Regions from separate parts of the Homo sapiens genome. Here region 2 is linked to region 1. A link means that fine-mapping ties the variant in region 1 to the expression of a gene that starts in the linked region. Tissue or cell type: whole blood. Region 1 holds a variant in brackets; the other region holds the start of a gene. All regions are shown on one strand. Distances are from middle to middle.

Region 1 (8,104 bases):
ACTCCTTTGTCTTTTCATGACGTTTCCAAAAGAAGACACTGTGACTCTGACAGAGGTGACCTGCACCTCACGACCCCCTCTGTGCAAACCATTAGCATTTCCGGATCTCAAAAAAACCAAAAAAACCCACAGGGCACATGCCAATTCATAGGACAAATGGAAACAGACTGAAAACAAAAACACAGAACCATGGCTTTTCAGACCTGTCAACATGGTTAGTGTTGGAAATAGGCACTGACTTCTCTTCCACCAAGTGGAATAAAAATTTAGATGTCTTTTAACATCTTAGATATTTTAACGTATTTAAAGTCAGGCAAAAAGCCCTATAGTCATTGCACTGCCTCAAAAATTATTTACGACAGTTCTATCTTAATGCTGTGTCCTGTTTTCCTAGCGATCAATGGCTTGAGGACCTCCCTTGAGCTCACTTTGCTGGCTCTGTTCTCTCATTTTGTTTTTGCGCTTCCCTCTCCTCTCCGGCATGTCTCAGGCCTTTATTTTTGTTGGTCCTAACAGCTGGTCCCCTTCCCTTCCCATCTGTCTCTATCATCTATTTTCAGGTTATGGCTCAGGCCCACCTTCCTGCTCCAGGAGAACATCTATGTATTCTCCAACGGCTGAGAAACATGCTGAGCGTCTAATGTCATCCTCCATATTGGTAACACGTAACATTAATAATGACAGTCATAATTTTCTGGAAGTAAGCCAAAGGTTCTAAGCTTAGATCGAACTGCAAAACAGTGTAACATAAAGTCAGCATTTGCTGTTACTATTAAATACATAAAAATTGGTTAATTTTATTACTTTTCCTTGTCTATATACAAGTAGGTACTTAAAATGGTGACCTTATAAACAGTCATCTCAGAGTGGCAATTATTGTTGGTGAATGGCTTAACGTCGTGGGTTGGTCACTACTTGTGAAATATCTGCTTTCTGAGCTGCAGAGAGTGTGGACGCCCTCTCCACAACCCCACACAATTGTGCTTCACTGTATGCACACCCAACACAACACATGCAAAGAGTGTGCGTCAGACTCAGACAATGTATTTCACTGAATTTGGACTCAAGTTCAACTCATCATTCTAATGAGTAAGAAGATTCAAAGATGACAAGGAAGCAAGCCCACACAGTCTACGGGCCATGGGATGATGAACTTTCGTTTTATTGATTTTTCAGTACCCAAGTGTGGCACTGTAAGGCTGCCACATACAGCAAGTGACATGACACCAAAAGGACCTTCCGAGAGTATTATTCTTACTTTGGATGGAAGACATCGCTTAAACAAAAAACATTTAAAGATGCTCCCTTGCTTTTTATAATTCCTAACTGTAAAATATAATTTTAGTACAGAACAAACAAATTCTCCTTGGTTGGTCACATCATTCATTATTGAAAGGGAAACTTAGTATCAAAAGAAACAAAACACTGAAATAAATAACTAAGTAATTTACTGAAAGGTAGTTTTGTTGCATTGCACACAACTGACCGCAGAGAATTCTAAAGCTGATTTTTTTCTTAAAGGATGAAAAACTCATTTGCCATTTTTAGTTTCTTGCTAAGTGATACATGCTCCTTATAAGGAAAACTACTCTGTGTAGGCCTGAGTTTAAAATGTAAATATCTGTTTATCCAGAGTTTGTTAATCTAGAGTACACAGATGTGGAAAACTGGTGGTGAAAAGAGGGACCTACCCAGCCTTCAGGGTGGCTGGGCAGGGGCCCCATGTTACTGGCCTCAGCCACCAGCAGCGTCTTCACTCCGCCCAGGTCAGAAAGCACTGCCTAAAGCCGGAGCTTAGGATGAACATGGGCAAAAAGCACTGGTACAGTTCCATGTGTTTCTCTTCTACTGTAATGTCCCCAGAGGGATTGTGAAATGTCTGAGAACATCCCCTGGAGGAGGTTTAAAAGTGAGAAGCCCATGATATGGCTATGGAACATAAGCACTTATTGCTGGCATGTTTCTACCAAGATTGAACACAATGCTTTTCTTTGATAAAGCTTTGGGCAAGTTCCTAGTCCAATTTCTTCTGCTACAAGTACACAGAATTTACTGCCTTCTTGGTCAGCTCTTGGTATGAATTCTTCTCTTGAATTAAGATCCTCCCTGGCTTGTCTCTCACCCACCCTGTATCTCTTAGAGAAAGCACCTGGCTGTCTTCACCTACGCGAGACCTTCTCTGGAATGTGATTTGCTGCGACTGCAGACATCTCCATACGGCATAATGAACTCCCTTGAGTGGTCTCTTTTTAAACAATTTTGGGTGAGGGGCAGGTTTCTTGGTTTGTTTCAAAACTCATCTTGAAAATAATCTAGACGGAAAAATCCGAAGTGAAATTCTGGTGCAACAAATATTTTAAGATTGAAGTTTGGTTACTTCTCTTGTCCATCTTTTCGTGCCCACAAATGGAAACTACATTCCTGATTTAAGAGGATGCTTCTGTCTGTATCCTTTTTTGAACTGCATTGTTCTCACAAGGACCAGCAAACTTTTTCTGTAAATATTTTAGTAAATATTCTAGGCTTTACAGGCCACATATAGTGTCTGCTGCATATTCTTCAACGTTTTTTCTTAGGCAACTGTTTAAAAATGGCAAATCCACTACTACCTCTCAGCTGGAGCAATGAGGTTTTCTCAGCCCTTGTTTCAGGATCCTCAGGTATGTGACTAACTCTTCTATGCCCAGAGCTGGAAGGCGGGGTCCCCTAACTCCCTGGGTGCCCACCTGCCCACTTCAACCATTTGTGGCCCCTTCCTTTCCTTTCTTCCCTCTCTGCTGCTGACACCAGTGGCTCCATCGCCAGCTCCCTGCAGCCTCCACCAATAATCCATGGCTCCTCCAGGAAGTGTCGCAGGCAGGTGGCCAAGACCAACTTATTAGGTAGCCAGAAGCTCACCCCTTTCTTAACAACTTTGACCACGAAGCGCAAATACGATGCAGGTAAATCCAGAGGCAGAGCCTGGGTCCCCAGGCTGCTGGTAACACGCTTTGAAATCCAGGTGAGGGAGCCATGCCCCCACAGCTCTTGCCTCAAGGATCAGATGCATTTTACCTTCCAGAGACGCAGGTTAAGCTGCACCTGAGGCAGTTTGAGCCACAACTGGGACAGAATTCCCTTGGTCTTCTCTTCTGATCCCTCAGCAGAACTGCCCCTAATGCTCAGTTCATGGCAATACAGGCCTTTTCTCTCCTGTTTCTCCAAACTCTCCCAGCCTCTGCCCAGTACCTAGTTCCAAAGCCACTTTTATAATATCCTCAGTTATCTGTTATAGCAACAACCCCACTTCTGGGTACTAATCTGCTACCAACTACAGGAATTTAACTGTTCTGGAGTTAGGGAACAGCACACACAGACACTCGCACAAAACAAACTCCACCTAAAAAAACTGTACGAGAATTCCCCAAACTTCTCAACTAAATAAATAGGTGAAAAAACACCAATCTCACATATGCCAATCCAATTGTCCTTTTTAGATTTTGGCTTAAATTGTCGAATTTTTTCCTTCAAAATGTGAATTTATTTCCTGTATTGGATGCAGACTCTTCCCTTCTGGATTTACAGTGGTGCTGCCAGCAACAGCCTCAGTCAATGCGGTTAGGAAGAGGACTCGGCAGGCTGTGCATGGGGTCTCCCAGTACGATTAAAAGCTGAGATGACTTTTAATTAAGGGGGGTGGGGGAAACACCAATTGGAAGCTGGAAGAAACTGAGGCACGATTAAGCAGAAACACTGAGGAATACTGAGCAAGAAGTGGGCATGTGCTCTAGTTCCAATAAAACCGAAACTGGTGAAACTAGGAATTTCCAATTCTTTCAAAACCACAGTGTTCTAATGCCACTGAAATATGGAATAAGGAGCGTAATTACCTGCGGTCAGGAAAAGATAACAGTAACGAGGATTTTTCTAAATAAAATGTACCAGTAAATTCTGAAGTGTGTGTTTTTAAAGAACCAGCATTGCCTCCCCTCACGCTGGTTTCTTGGGATTTTTCACACACTC[G/A]CACAAAGCTGTAGTCGATAGTTCACTATCACTTTTATAAATGGTTATCTCCTGGTGCCCATGTTTCTCTGTTTTGGATATAAATGGTTTAAAAAATTTAAATTTGCAAAGAAAACATATACAGTAACAGACCTGAACAATAAATAAAAAAAAAAATCACCCTCTTCAGGTTAGAGCTTTCAAGATAGAGAAAAAAGAGGATTATCATTTCAGGCAGTAAGTTTTTTGGTTCTATGAAAGCATCACTATTCAGTCCCCTCTCCACTGACAGAATGCATCTTTCCACCTCCCTCCAGTATCAAAGTGCATGTGTTTAAATTTAACATTCCTTAGAGAAACCCCAGAAATCTCATTTATTTTTGGCAGATATCCTGTGCAGCAAAAATCAAGTGAATTTCCCTCTTCCCCACTCCTCAATTTAATGCTGTACTCAAAATGGCTAAACGCAATACTTCTAGACAGCAGGGCTTATAAACAATGCATTTTTTTTTTTTGAGACGGAGTCTCACTCTGTCGCCCAGGCTGGAGTGCAGTGGTGTGATCTCGGCTCACTGCAAGCTCTGCCTCCCAGGTTCATGCCATTCTCCTGCCTCAGCCTCCTGAGTAGCTGGGACTACGGGCGCCCGCCACCACACCCAGCTAATTTTTTGTATTTTTAGTAGAGACGGGGTTTCACCGTGTTAGCCAGGATGGTCTCGATCTCCTGACCTCATGATCCGCCCGCCTCGGCCTCCCAAAGTGCTGGGATTACAGGCGTGAGCCACCGCGCTCGGCCTGCATTTTGTTTTTGTTTGGAGGAACAAAAAAGGGAAAGAAAAAACAAAACCACAGGAAAATAAAGAGGAGAAACCCTGAGGCAAAAATGGCTTTTCCTTTTGAGTCTTCGTGGAGCTGTGAGCTGGATCACAAGGTCCCCGGGGCATTCTGGGCGGGAAGGCCCTCCTCCATCCAGAGGGCGGCGGCCGAGCTGCTCCGGGGAGTGCGCCTGTGGATGCGCCGCAGCCGCAGCAGGTACAGCAGGATGGCCAGCAGCACCACCAGGAAGCAGCCAGAGAACAGGTAGTGGTTGTAGACAAAGGAAACGCCCCGCCAGTGGGTGTGACTGGCTCGGAAGGCCTCCTGCTGGATGTCTCTGCCCATGTGAACACCAAACAACAAACAGGACAGTAAGCAAGGAAAGGGGTGGAAAGGGTGCACAGGGGGACGGCGGGACCCAGGCCCCAGAGCTGCACTTTAGGAACTGCAACCCTACCTCTGAAATGGAGAACGGAACAGCCCAATGCAGGGGGCTTCTAAGTATCAGTGAGATAACATGTGAAAGTATACTCTGAAGTCGGTCATTATAATTTGGGCAACCAAAATCAGAGGAATTTAGAAGAGCCGTGAAGGTTTCGCTGATACAAAGAAGTCAACATGTAAACAAACTGCATGCTTGTGATCAGTAACACCCATGACTCACCATTTTTACAGTTAACCCAGTTAAAAGGGTTGCTGAGAAATGCTCAATTAAATGGAGGGGGTGGGGGGAAGAGCAAATGTCTCATCTATCAGGTAACTCAGGTTCTTAGCACAGGTCAACTGACAGCAGATCTGCAAACGTGAATGGGGAAAAACGCACATCTTTGTTCTACCCAAGCGCTGACTGAGATGTAGCATTTCTTTGACCATGAATGCAGACAACAAACTATCATTAGCGTTGGCAGCACCTGCAACTTTGTTACTAACGAAAATCACAGATCTTTCATGTCCCATTATGGTATCATCAATGCCTCAAAATATCATTGACGCTCATTGACTACACTGAAATTACAGAAAGTGCTAATTCTGCTGCCAGATCCTGTTATTTAATGTGTTAATAGAGAAGAACACATATTACAGTATCACAAACTTGTTTTCTGTAATATTTTGGTATTATTTCAATATGATGGTTTCTTCTGTAATCCTATGTATTTATACATGCATTTAAACAGTATTTGGAGAAGAGGCCTGAGTCATAAAGGTTAAGAACCCCGGAACTGACCCTTTTGCCGGGGCTGGGGAACAGACAGTTGAGAATAACCAAACACAGGGCAGTAGGACAGGAGTGCTGTGTATTACGGGATGGTAGGGTGAGAAGGGAGGAAGCACTTGTGGGGAGGGGGCAAGACCAAAAGCAAACGTCACTGTCCCTACAATTCTGCCGTGGCCGGCTCTAACAGCAATGCCCCAAACAGCCACAGACCACAGCTGCCATGAGGTGCTGTAACTGCAGAAAAGCATCTTTTTGATTCTCGTTCCCAAATTCACAGCCCTACCTTAATGGTAGAAAGCGGGTCCTGTAGAGGATGGCTCCAAGGGTCCACTGAACCTCCTTGTCGTAAACTTGCAAGGCAGTCTTTAAGCTTTTATAGTTGACAGGAAACGAAAAGCCCCTATGAAACACCTCAAACATCCAGGCCGATTTGAAGCACTGATACCTACAAACGGCAAGCACAAAGGCAAGTCAGACTGACTCACTCTGTCAAGATGGCACACACACACACACACACACAATCCTTCCCTCTGTGGGCAGCCTTGGGGCAGGGGCTTCCTCAGGCCGGCTCTCCCAAACCAACTGCGCGCGTTTCAAGGTTGATGTACTTGCTTCACATCCCTGGTCCCACAACATGGAGCAGTTCACCTGTCAAATCAATCAGTGCATGAACCCGGTCTCGGCATAATGTCATATATCCCTGAGATAGGTTTCTTTTCCAGCTGGCATTTCACCATGTACTCCTTGAATGAATACTGAACAGGTTCCAACCTCTTTGTACCTCAGTTTATTATAAAATGAGATGGTAGGAAGGTTCTCTTCAGCTCTGATATTCTATGACTCTAAATATTTATTAGAGGTTTATTTTTTGCCAAGCACTGTGCTAAGCAAGTAATAAGATACAATAATTAGTAAGATACAGTGTCTGCACTTAAGTGACTTACAATGAAAGGGGATTTTTAAAAAGCAACAGAAAAAGCAGAACATGATAAATGCATTGGCGAGGTAGGATGAATTCTTGAGACTCAGAGAAAGGGATGAAGTCTGATTGAGGGGACAGAGGAAGACTGGAAAGGGACAGCCTCTGGCTGGACTCTGATGTCTGGGCAGGACTTGAACAAGCAAAGGTATGAACAGGGGAATTTCAGGGGTAAGAGACAGTAAAAGTGACCAAAACAAAAAAGATACGGAATATGTCTGGGCACAAGTATTTGTCCCGTTTGAAAGGGGCCCAGGGTAGATGGGAAGAACAGTGAGTGAGAAGAAGCTGGACTGAGGCCAGGGTGTGGCAAGCCAGTGGGGCCAACACTGCATTATGGTTCTTAAGAGTGCCCTGGGCTTGACCTTCTAGTACTTACTTAAGCCTGTGGAGGTCAGCATGAGAGGCGTACAGTCCTCGGTCAAAGCGTTCCCGCAAAATGGACCACTTTGTTGCACAATAATCCTGAAAACAAATTCACCAAAATAGATCACTAGTAAAGGCTTATTAAAATTCTCACTTTAAAAATGGTTTACCAAATTTATATTTGTAACAAGCATATCCTTCCCATTAGGAAACACACAAGCTTAACTTATACAACAAATGGCAAGACACACAAACACTCAGGGAATACTTACTGATTCGCAAACACAATGCCTTGCCTTAAAATTCTGTCCAGGGTATTGTTAAAGAGAGCTTTGCTGTCCACAACCAACCTCTCCAAAACTGTTTAGTTTCTCCCTCCATGACTGCATGGTACGGGCATACATTTTTGGAAAAGTGAAGCAGTATTTTAGCTACTTCAAACTAAGTCCTACATCTGTGGAGGACACAGTACAAGCTACTGGGATAATAACTGCAAAAGGTTTTTGTCTTTAACAGAAGGGAAAGAGATCCCACTTTTCTTGAAGTTATTTGTTATAATAACTTTTATTGAGCATTGTGTAAGTGTGTCTTCTCAATGTAATACTTAACTCCTCGAGGTGGCTACCATCCCGACCTCTATTTAAAGGATGAAGACACTGCTGAGAGGTGGGAGATGGGCCTGGGTGTGTGACAGGGAGCACAAGGAAAAAGCACTTGGCCTGGGGAACGGGCTCGGCATAGGCACT
Region 2 (8,104 bases), 28 kb before region 1:
ATCGGGTTGACCAGTTTCTCTGCCTCTAACTGGCTATTTTATGGAAGGTCTGTTCATTCCCTGTTTCAAAGCAACAAGCGTAACAGCAGAACATCTAGGAGTCCTGTGCCAAGAGATTCCTTTTTCCCACATGATCTGCCAAGAAAGGAGAATTCCAACTTATGAGTCTCATTAACAAGGTGGAGAAATTTCTTCTTCGCTCCATTTCAAAAGCAAATAAACTTAAGTAATGAAAATGCTAAAAGCAGAAGGCTCTGGTGTTGTATTAGTCTGTTCTCATGCTGCTAATAAAGACATACCCGAGACTGGGTACTTTGTAAAGGGAGGAGGTTTAATGGACTCACAATGCCACATGGCTGGGGAGGCCTCACAATCATGGCAGAAGACAAAGGAAGAGCAAAGGAACATCTTACATGGTGGCAGGCAAGAGAGCATGTACAGGGGACTCCCATTTATAAAACCATATCTCACGAGATTTACTTCTCAGGGGAAAGATCTACCCCCATGATTCAATTACCTTTCATCGGGTCTTTCCTACAACACATGGGAATTATGACAGCTACAATTCACAATGAGATTTGGGTGGGGACACAGCCAAGCCATATCAGGTGTTGCATATCTTCATTGGTCAAATGCAGAATAAAGTCATGCATAAACTAAGGGCTTCAATGGGAAGCCTATATACCCCTACTTCTCTGTCATAGGATTTGAGGGCTTCAGCATGAAGGTACCAGCTGTCAGAGTACTCAGGTGATGCTCAGAGAGGGGAGATTGTCCTCTACTAGATTTCTTTCTGGGGCCTTTGTTTCTTCCAGGAATCCCAGCAACAGTCATTTCACTCATCCTATTTTTACACCTTGGAGTCAAATAATGAGGAAGTACACTGCTCTCTAGTTCAGAGAGGGCAGCTCTGAGCCCTTACAGTTTTGCAATGAGCTAGGAAACAAACCCTGGCTTCCTGATTTTGCAGTTCATTTATCTCAAGCACCAAATGTCCAATTACTAATATTTACACAGGGATTTCTGACAGCAGGTGTATAGGAAGTGATAAGCCCAGGATGAAGCCTGAGCCAAGAAGAACTCTTCAGAGAGCAGCTGAGAGTCCACGAGTAACATGGAGAACCAGAACCACCGAAGCCCAGCCATGAGGAGGCTGGGTTAGACCCTGGCTCCCTGGGTCACCAGCTGTGCCCTCTGGACAGCTTATCTGTTTATCCATTTCCTCAGCTGAGAAATGAATTTGAAAATACTCACCTAACTCTTTAGTGGGACCTTGTAAGAATCAAATGACATAGTGGACAGAAAAGTAGTTTGAAAGGAAGAACATAACAATAGGAATGTAACAAGTTACACAAATCAACAGAACTCAGATCAACTATAAAAAAAGACATTTTGAGGAAAATTGGGAAATGCTTAAATATAGACTGCTATTTGGCATTAGATGATACCAAATATTTTTTTTTTAGTTTTCTTAGGTCTAAATATGGCATCATAGTTATGTAAAATCTTTAGAAATCACACTGAAATATGTAGCAATGAAATGACATGATGTATAGGATTTGCTTTAAACTACTTCAATGACAGAAACAAAGGGACAGATGACGTACATGTGGCAAAATAACTGTTGAAATTCAGTGAGAAGCTTATGAGGCATCATTATACCCTTCTCTCTACTTTTTTTGCATACTTGAAATTTTTTGAGAATAAAAAATAAACAATGTAGTGTTTTCTGGGACTCAACACCTTCGCTGATGGTCATGTCTATCTAGAGCACAGAAAATCTGTTTCCTTCACAAAGCCCTTCCACACTGGCCATCTAGAGGTCAAAGGACAAGGACTTGGGAAGAGGCCAGGAGAGGCCAGTTGGAAAGAAAATAAAAGGAAGCATCTTTGCAGAATCTCCTATCTGTGATACTTAAAATGTCAGCCAATGTGTGGTGTTAAGTACGTTTTGTTTTCAGACCTGAGTTTCATACTCAACTTTGCCACTCAATGCCTAAGTGACCTTAGACTAAGTCACTTTCTAACACAAAGTTACAGGGAAGCAAATGCACATGCATGCACAAACACACATATACATATACACACGTGCACACATGCGTGCACACACATACACACAAGTGCACAAACGCGCACACACACATACACATGCAAACATGCACACAAACACAAATACACATATACACATACAGGTGTGCACACATGCACACAGGAATACATATGCACACACATTGCGTGCACACACACGTGCCCGCGCACACACACCTGTGTGCGCATATAAACACACACCGGTGCACACACATACACAAACACACTCGTGTGGAGACACACACATGCACACATACATGTGCCCACACATACACGTGCACACATGCATACACAAACGTGCGCGCGTGCACACACAGATTAGTGAGACTCAATTTCCTTGGGGAGAGCCTTGGTAGCCACTGGGGCCCATGGGGAGCACGCATCTTGTCATGGCTCTGGTGGCCATTCCAGGGCAGATACTAGGGACCAGGAAGAGGAACGGGACAAAGGTGAGGAGAAAGATTAAAAATTTAGTCAAGTTAGGATCCAGTGAGTCAGTCACTTATCTGGGAACTGACCAGGGAAATGAACTCTTCCTCTTCCACCCTAAACCCCAACCCTGACCATTAAGTACATGATACACCATCAATAACTAATTCATTCCACCAAAGATGACAAATGTTGTTTTGGGGTTCCAGGACGGACAGGCTAGCAGTGGTGTAGGGGAGGGGCCTGGAGTAAGAGGTATGGGTTTCAGTCCCCACATTGACTAACTCAGTGACCGTGAGCCTCAGCGTTTTTCTTCCTCTGGGAGAAAAAAAAAAAAAGTATTGTTTTTGAGATCTCTGCAGTTTCAAGATCTTAGGGACGAAACTAATTTGGAGCATGTTTCTGTCATGCACATCTCTCCCCTCATCAGGACTTGGGGTTTCCTAACCATATTGAGTAGTTCAGCCCCCTCCCTCGCCGTGTTCTGCGGTGTTCTCTTCCTCACACCCTCGCCCCGCTCCGCCCCGCACTCCGGCTGTTTTTTGATGGTCTTAGCTCGGGCACGGAGAGGAGGGAACCTCGCTTGTTCTCCCAATCATCTCTATTCCAGCGCTGATTCCTGGGACACCTCGAGCAGGCAGCCACACCCAGAGGGCTTCCAAATTTGGGCTGGTGAGAAGGGGCGCGGTGGGCAAAGCGCCTGCGTAAAAGTTGTAGGCACTTCAGACCACCGGACCAACGGCTCAAGATTGGGATCAGCTGTAGCCGTGGGTTCGCTCGTGCCCGTTCTTTCCAACTCCAGGGCTTCTAGGTGATGAAGGCGGGAGAGGGTCCCTGGTCCCCGGAGAGGCAGGGCGACTTGGGAGTGCATACCTGGCGTGCCGAGAGCGCCTCTGCTCCCGCAGGACTCACGGCGCTCCCGCGCTCCCAACAGCCTTTCGAGCAGGCTGGGGGTTGAACCGGGTTCAAGCAGTGGACGCTACAGCTCCCGGGCGCAGCCCCCGGGGTCCCCGCCCCCACTCCGTCCCAGCCCAGCACGCTCTACATCCCCAAAACCACAGCCCCGAGGGCAGTCACTGTCTCCCGACCCGTCCCCCGCGTGCCCCACTCCTCAAAGCCAGAATTCCGGAGACGCTGTCCCTGGAGCCACGCTGCACTCTCCAAGACGCCCAGCACACACCGAGACTTGACGGGCTCTGTCCCGCCTGATTACGGGCGCTCGGGACGATCCAGGGACCCAGCGCCTCGCTCCCCGGGCGCGCCAGCAGCCGCGCCGCGCCCGGCCCGTACGAGGTGGGGTTGGGCGGGGCCGCCCGGGGCGGCAGGAGGACCCGTTAGCCTGCACGTCCTCGCATCGCTCCCCGCAAGAAGTCTTTGGGAACCCCCAGGCACTGTCGAGAGGCAGCCCCGCGCAGGACGAAGCCTGGAGACCCCATAGGGACGCTCCCGCTTTCTCGCGAACCGCTTCGGGGAGGGGGTGGCGCGGGAAGCGCTCTTACTTGGTTTCAGGGATCCGCAGTGGCCGGGCTGGGACCGCGCTCTCCACGGTGGTCCCCCTCCGCTTCCGCCGCCGCTGAGCCCCTTTCTCGAGCAGAGGGGGCGGCTCTGGTCTCCGATGGCTGGAGAAAGCAAGCACCAAGCGTAGGTAGCCGCGCGCTGGAGTCGCGCGTTTACTCTTTTCCCCCTTACTTTTAACTAGAGGAGGATGGCAAACCCCTCCCCGGACCCACCCCCTTCCCCGAAGGCGGCCGCCGCAGCAGGCCCGGCCTCCGGCCTCTTTTGTTGTAATTCGAGAGCGGCCACTCCCAGGGCCAGAGGGAGCTCCGCGGGGGAGGCCAAGGCCTGCGGGGCAGCCCTTCCCAGGCTCCTCGCGCCCGGGTTTCCGGAGCCTGAGATGCCGGGAAGGGGGCCTTTCCTCGGGAGATTCCTCTACCCTTTCCTCCCTGCAGCCGTCCCAGAATTTAACCCTTCGATGTCCTTATCCACCAGCCTTAGGGCCCGTGCCTTGTCCACCTCCTATCCCGAAAACCCTGGCCCTCCTTGGCACATAATACACGCTCAATTAAAGCTGCCGAATGAAAGTGTTCAGAAACTTGCACCCATCTCGCCTGGGTTTCACCTCCCTTTTCCTGTAGGGGGAAAACCGATCCTGAACCAGTAAATAAACAGCCCCCTTTCGGCCAGCAGATCACGTCTATGGCCTTGGCCAAGCCTCTTCTCCGAGGACTAGTTTTCTTCTTTGTAAATTCAACGCTTTGGATTCCGTGACCTCTGGGGTCCTTCCTGGAATGGTAGGGCTGGGATTAACAAGCCCTGTGCTTGGGGACTGAACAGGACACAGCTAATGCGTGGCCATTGTGCAGAAGGACCTCCTGTGCCTGGCTCTGAGGCTCCGGGTGGGGGATGGGCATGCTGGGAGAGCCCTCTGCACAGAGAGGGCTCCTTAAGCAAGAGCAGGGCTTTGCCAGTCCCAAGGAGGCAGCGAGCTGCAAAACAAGGGACCCCTGTGCAGAAGTAGACTGTCACCTGAAAGGCGGCTCCTTCCTCAGTCCTCTCTTACTCCACTCCCTGAGGAGACAAACCCCTCCCAAATCTCACCTCCAGCCCAGGCTTCTCTCCTAAGCCATGGATATTTAAATCCATTGGCCCCGAAAGACTTTCACCTGGACATTCCCATGGCCGTAGCTAACCTGGCAAGCCCCAAACTTGGCACTGCAACTCACGGTCCACCTTGACTCCTGTGAGCTCTCCCAGGCAGATATGGGGTCTTCTCCGTTGCCTCCTCCTTACCCTCCCCACTGATCAGTCCCTGACTCTGGTGGGCAGTAGAGGGCAAGGGTCAGAGGAAGGGGGTGTAGTTATCAAAGGCAGGAGGAGGGATCTTTGTGGTGGTGGAACTATTCAGTGTCTTGAGATACAGAAAACCACACAGGTGATAAAATTGTATAGAACGTAATACACCCAATAAAATTTCAATTAAAAATTTAAAAAAATCCTCCGTGGCTCCAAGGTCCTCAAAATGTAATCTGAATCCTGGCTGGGTGCGGTGGCTCATGCCTGTAATCCCAGCACTTTGGGAGGCCGAGGCAGGCGGATCACAAGGTCAGGAGATCGAGACCATCCTGGCTAACATGGTGAAACCCCGTCTCTACTAAAAATACAAAAAATTAGCCGGGCGTGGTGGCGGGCGCCTGTAGTCCCAGCTACTCGGGAAGCTGAGGCAGGAGAATGGGGTGAACCCGGGAGGCGGAGCTTGCAGTGAGCCGAGATCCCGCCACTGCACTCCAGCCTCGGGGACAGAGCGAGACTCCGTCTCAGAAAAAGAAAAATGTAATCTGAATCCCTTGATTAAGCTGACAGGGCCTCTGGGGCATTTCCAGCCTGCCCAACTGCCAACCACATCTCACCTCTCCCCCTGGGCCTTACTTTCTGTGCTCCTATAAGCCTTCTATTTCACACCCCAGGACCTTTGAACGTGACATTCCCTTGGCTTCTCTGCACAGTAATGCCTGGTTATTGAGCTTTCACTCAGCTGTCACACCCTACACAGTGCCTGGACGTACCAGATGCTCAATAAATGCTGGTGAAACTGAGCTCTCCCCTTTCCCCATCTCCCATCCTTCCACTTCTAGTCCTACCCTCTCTTGCTAAAGCATTCACTAATAAGGTAGAAAATGAAAGGAGACCAACTTTGTAAATAATCTTTTGTCTGTTATAAAGAAAAGCAAACTTCTTGTGAAATATTCAGAAAATATGTAAAATGTAAGGAAGAAATTGTCACTCTGGTGTCTTATCACCCATAAACACCTACTGTTTGGAGTCTTTCCTTCAGAATATTTGTTCAACCAAATTGTAGTTACAGTTTTTGTATCCTGATTTTTTTTTTTTTTTTTTTTTGAGACAGACTCTAGCTCTGACTCCCAAGCTGGAGTTCAGTGGCGCAGTCTCGGCTCACTGCAACCTCCCCCTCCCAGGTTCAGCTTCCCAAGTCTGTCTCAGCCTCCCGAGTAGCTGGGATTACAGGCATGTGCCATCACGTGTGGCTAATTTTTGTATTTTTAGTAGAGACAGGGTTTCACCATGCTGGCCGGGCTGTCCTTGAACTCCTGGTTTCAAGTGATCCACCCACCTCTGCCTCCCAAAGTGCTGGGATTACAGACGTGAGCCACTTCACCTGGCCTCTGATTTTTTTTACTATATCATTTTGTGTTAATTTTTCAATGTAATTTTTAATGGTTTTAGACAGTTCTGGTCTGAAATTATTGTGCAATGGAGTCATTTCTCCATTATTGGATATTCAGTTGTTTACAGCTTTTTGCTAGTGTAAATTACGCCATGACAATTACCCCTGTGAAAGTAATATTTATTGATTGGGTACAGTGTGGTTCCTGCTAATTGTTACAGATGAGAAAGCCCTGGCTCAGAGAAGTGATTTTCCCAGCGTCACAGAGGCAGGGAATGGCCGAGCTGGGAGAACCAAAAGGAGCTTGACTCGTCCAGCAAGTATTAGTGGCCCACACTGGAGGCCTCAGTAAGTCCATCTCTGCCTTACCATGTCCTCACTTCCAAGAGGAAATGAGTAGAGTATCTGAAGTTTGCACTGAGTGTTTTATTGATGCCCTTTTGTTGAATTGAAATCAAGACCTAGGAGACTACTTCAGGACAACAGTAGACCCTTGTCCCAGATGAAACAAAATGATGGCGGGATGCCTTATGTCTGTAAGTCTGGATACACCTCCCACCCTGCCACCTCCACCACTCAGGTCCTGCACTGCTGCAGAGGCAGAGTCGTACAGTAGGTTCAGGGCATGCTTGTGCAGTCAGGGGGCCTGGGTTCAAATCTTGGCTCCACCATTAACTGATGTGAACTCCCTTTTCCTTCACATGCTTCATCTGTAAGAAGCGCCTCAAAATGCTCCTAAGAGGTTGAGTGGAGTGGCTTAAGCTTGTAATCTCAGCACTGTGGGAGGCCAAGGTGGGTGGGTTGCTTGAGTCCAGGAGTTTGAGACCAGCCTGGGCAACATGGCAAAACCCTGTCTCTACAAAAAATATAAAAATTAGCCAGGCGTGGTGGTATGGGCTTGTAGTCCTAGCTACTTGGGGCGCTGAGGCAGGAGGATCACTTGAGCCCAGGAAGTCAAGGCTGCATTTGAACTGAGATCATGCCACTGCACTCCAGCCCGGGTGACAAAGCGGTATCTGTTAAAAAAAAAAAAAAAGCTCCAAAGGAGTAAAAGGACTGAATGGGCTCAGACTCAGAACAGTCCCTCGTATGGTACTTGGACAATAAATGTTGCGTTGTGAGGAGGGCATCTTTGAGGAGGGCACAGTGACTCCTTGTCCCTCAGGGCTTCAGACCCCACACAGGGAGAGGGAAGGCAACACCTCCTGTCCACCCCATCCCCAGGGGTCATGTGAATTACTGCATTAGGATCCATTCCCAGAATGTGATTACTGAGTCAAAGGCTAGAGGCGATTCTTTCTTTTTTTTCCCTTGGCTTTTGCACTCTCTTGCCAAATCACTCTCCTACCAGTCTGGACCGACTTAGATTGAAAGAAGCATAGCATGTCCCAGTAGGCATAGCCT

The links. PIP is the estimated chance that this variant, and not a neighbour inherited with it, causes the effect.
Region 2: LOXL2 starts here. The variant in region 1 is fine-mapped to the expression of LOXL2 in whole blood (TOPMed, PIP above 0.99).

The regions. Positions count from the first base shown.
Region 1 is chr8:23,428,021-23,436,124 of GRCh38, forward strand. ENTPD4 (ectonucleoside triphosphate diphosphohydrolase 4) reads right to left here. Exons shown (of 13, transcript NM_004901.5): 11 at 7,372-7,457; 12 at 6,297-6,458; 13 at 1,142-5,134. The coding sequence ends at 4,906. Among named protein-coding and RNA genes, the nearest start is that of ENTPD4, 26 kb to the right of the region's middle. The variant G/A (reference allele first, on the strand shown) is at 4,003.
Region 2 is chr8:23,399,938-23,408,041 of GRCh38, forward strand. It overlaps LOXL2 (lysyl oxidase like 2), which reads right to left and starts at 4,183. Exons shown (of 14, transcript NM_002318.3): 1 at 4,017-4,183.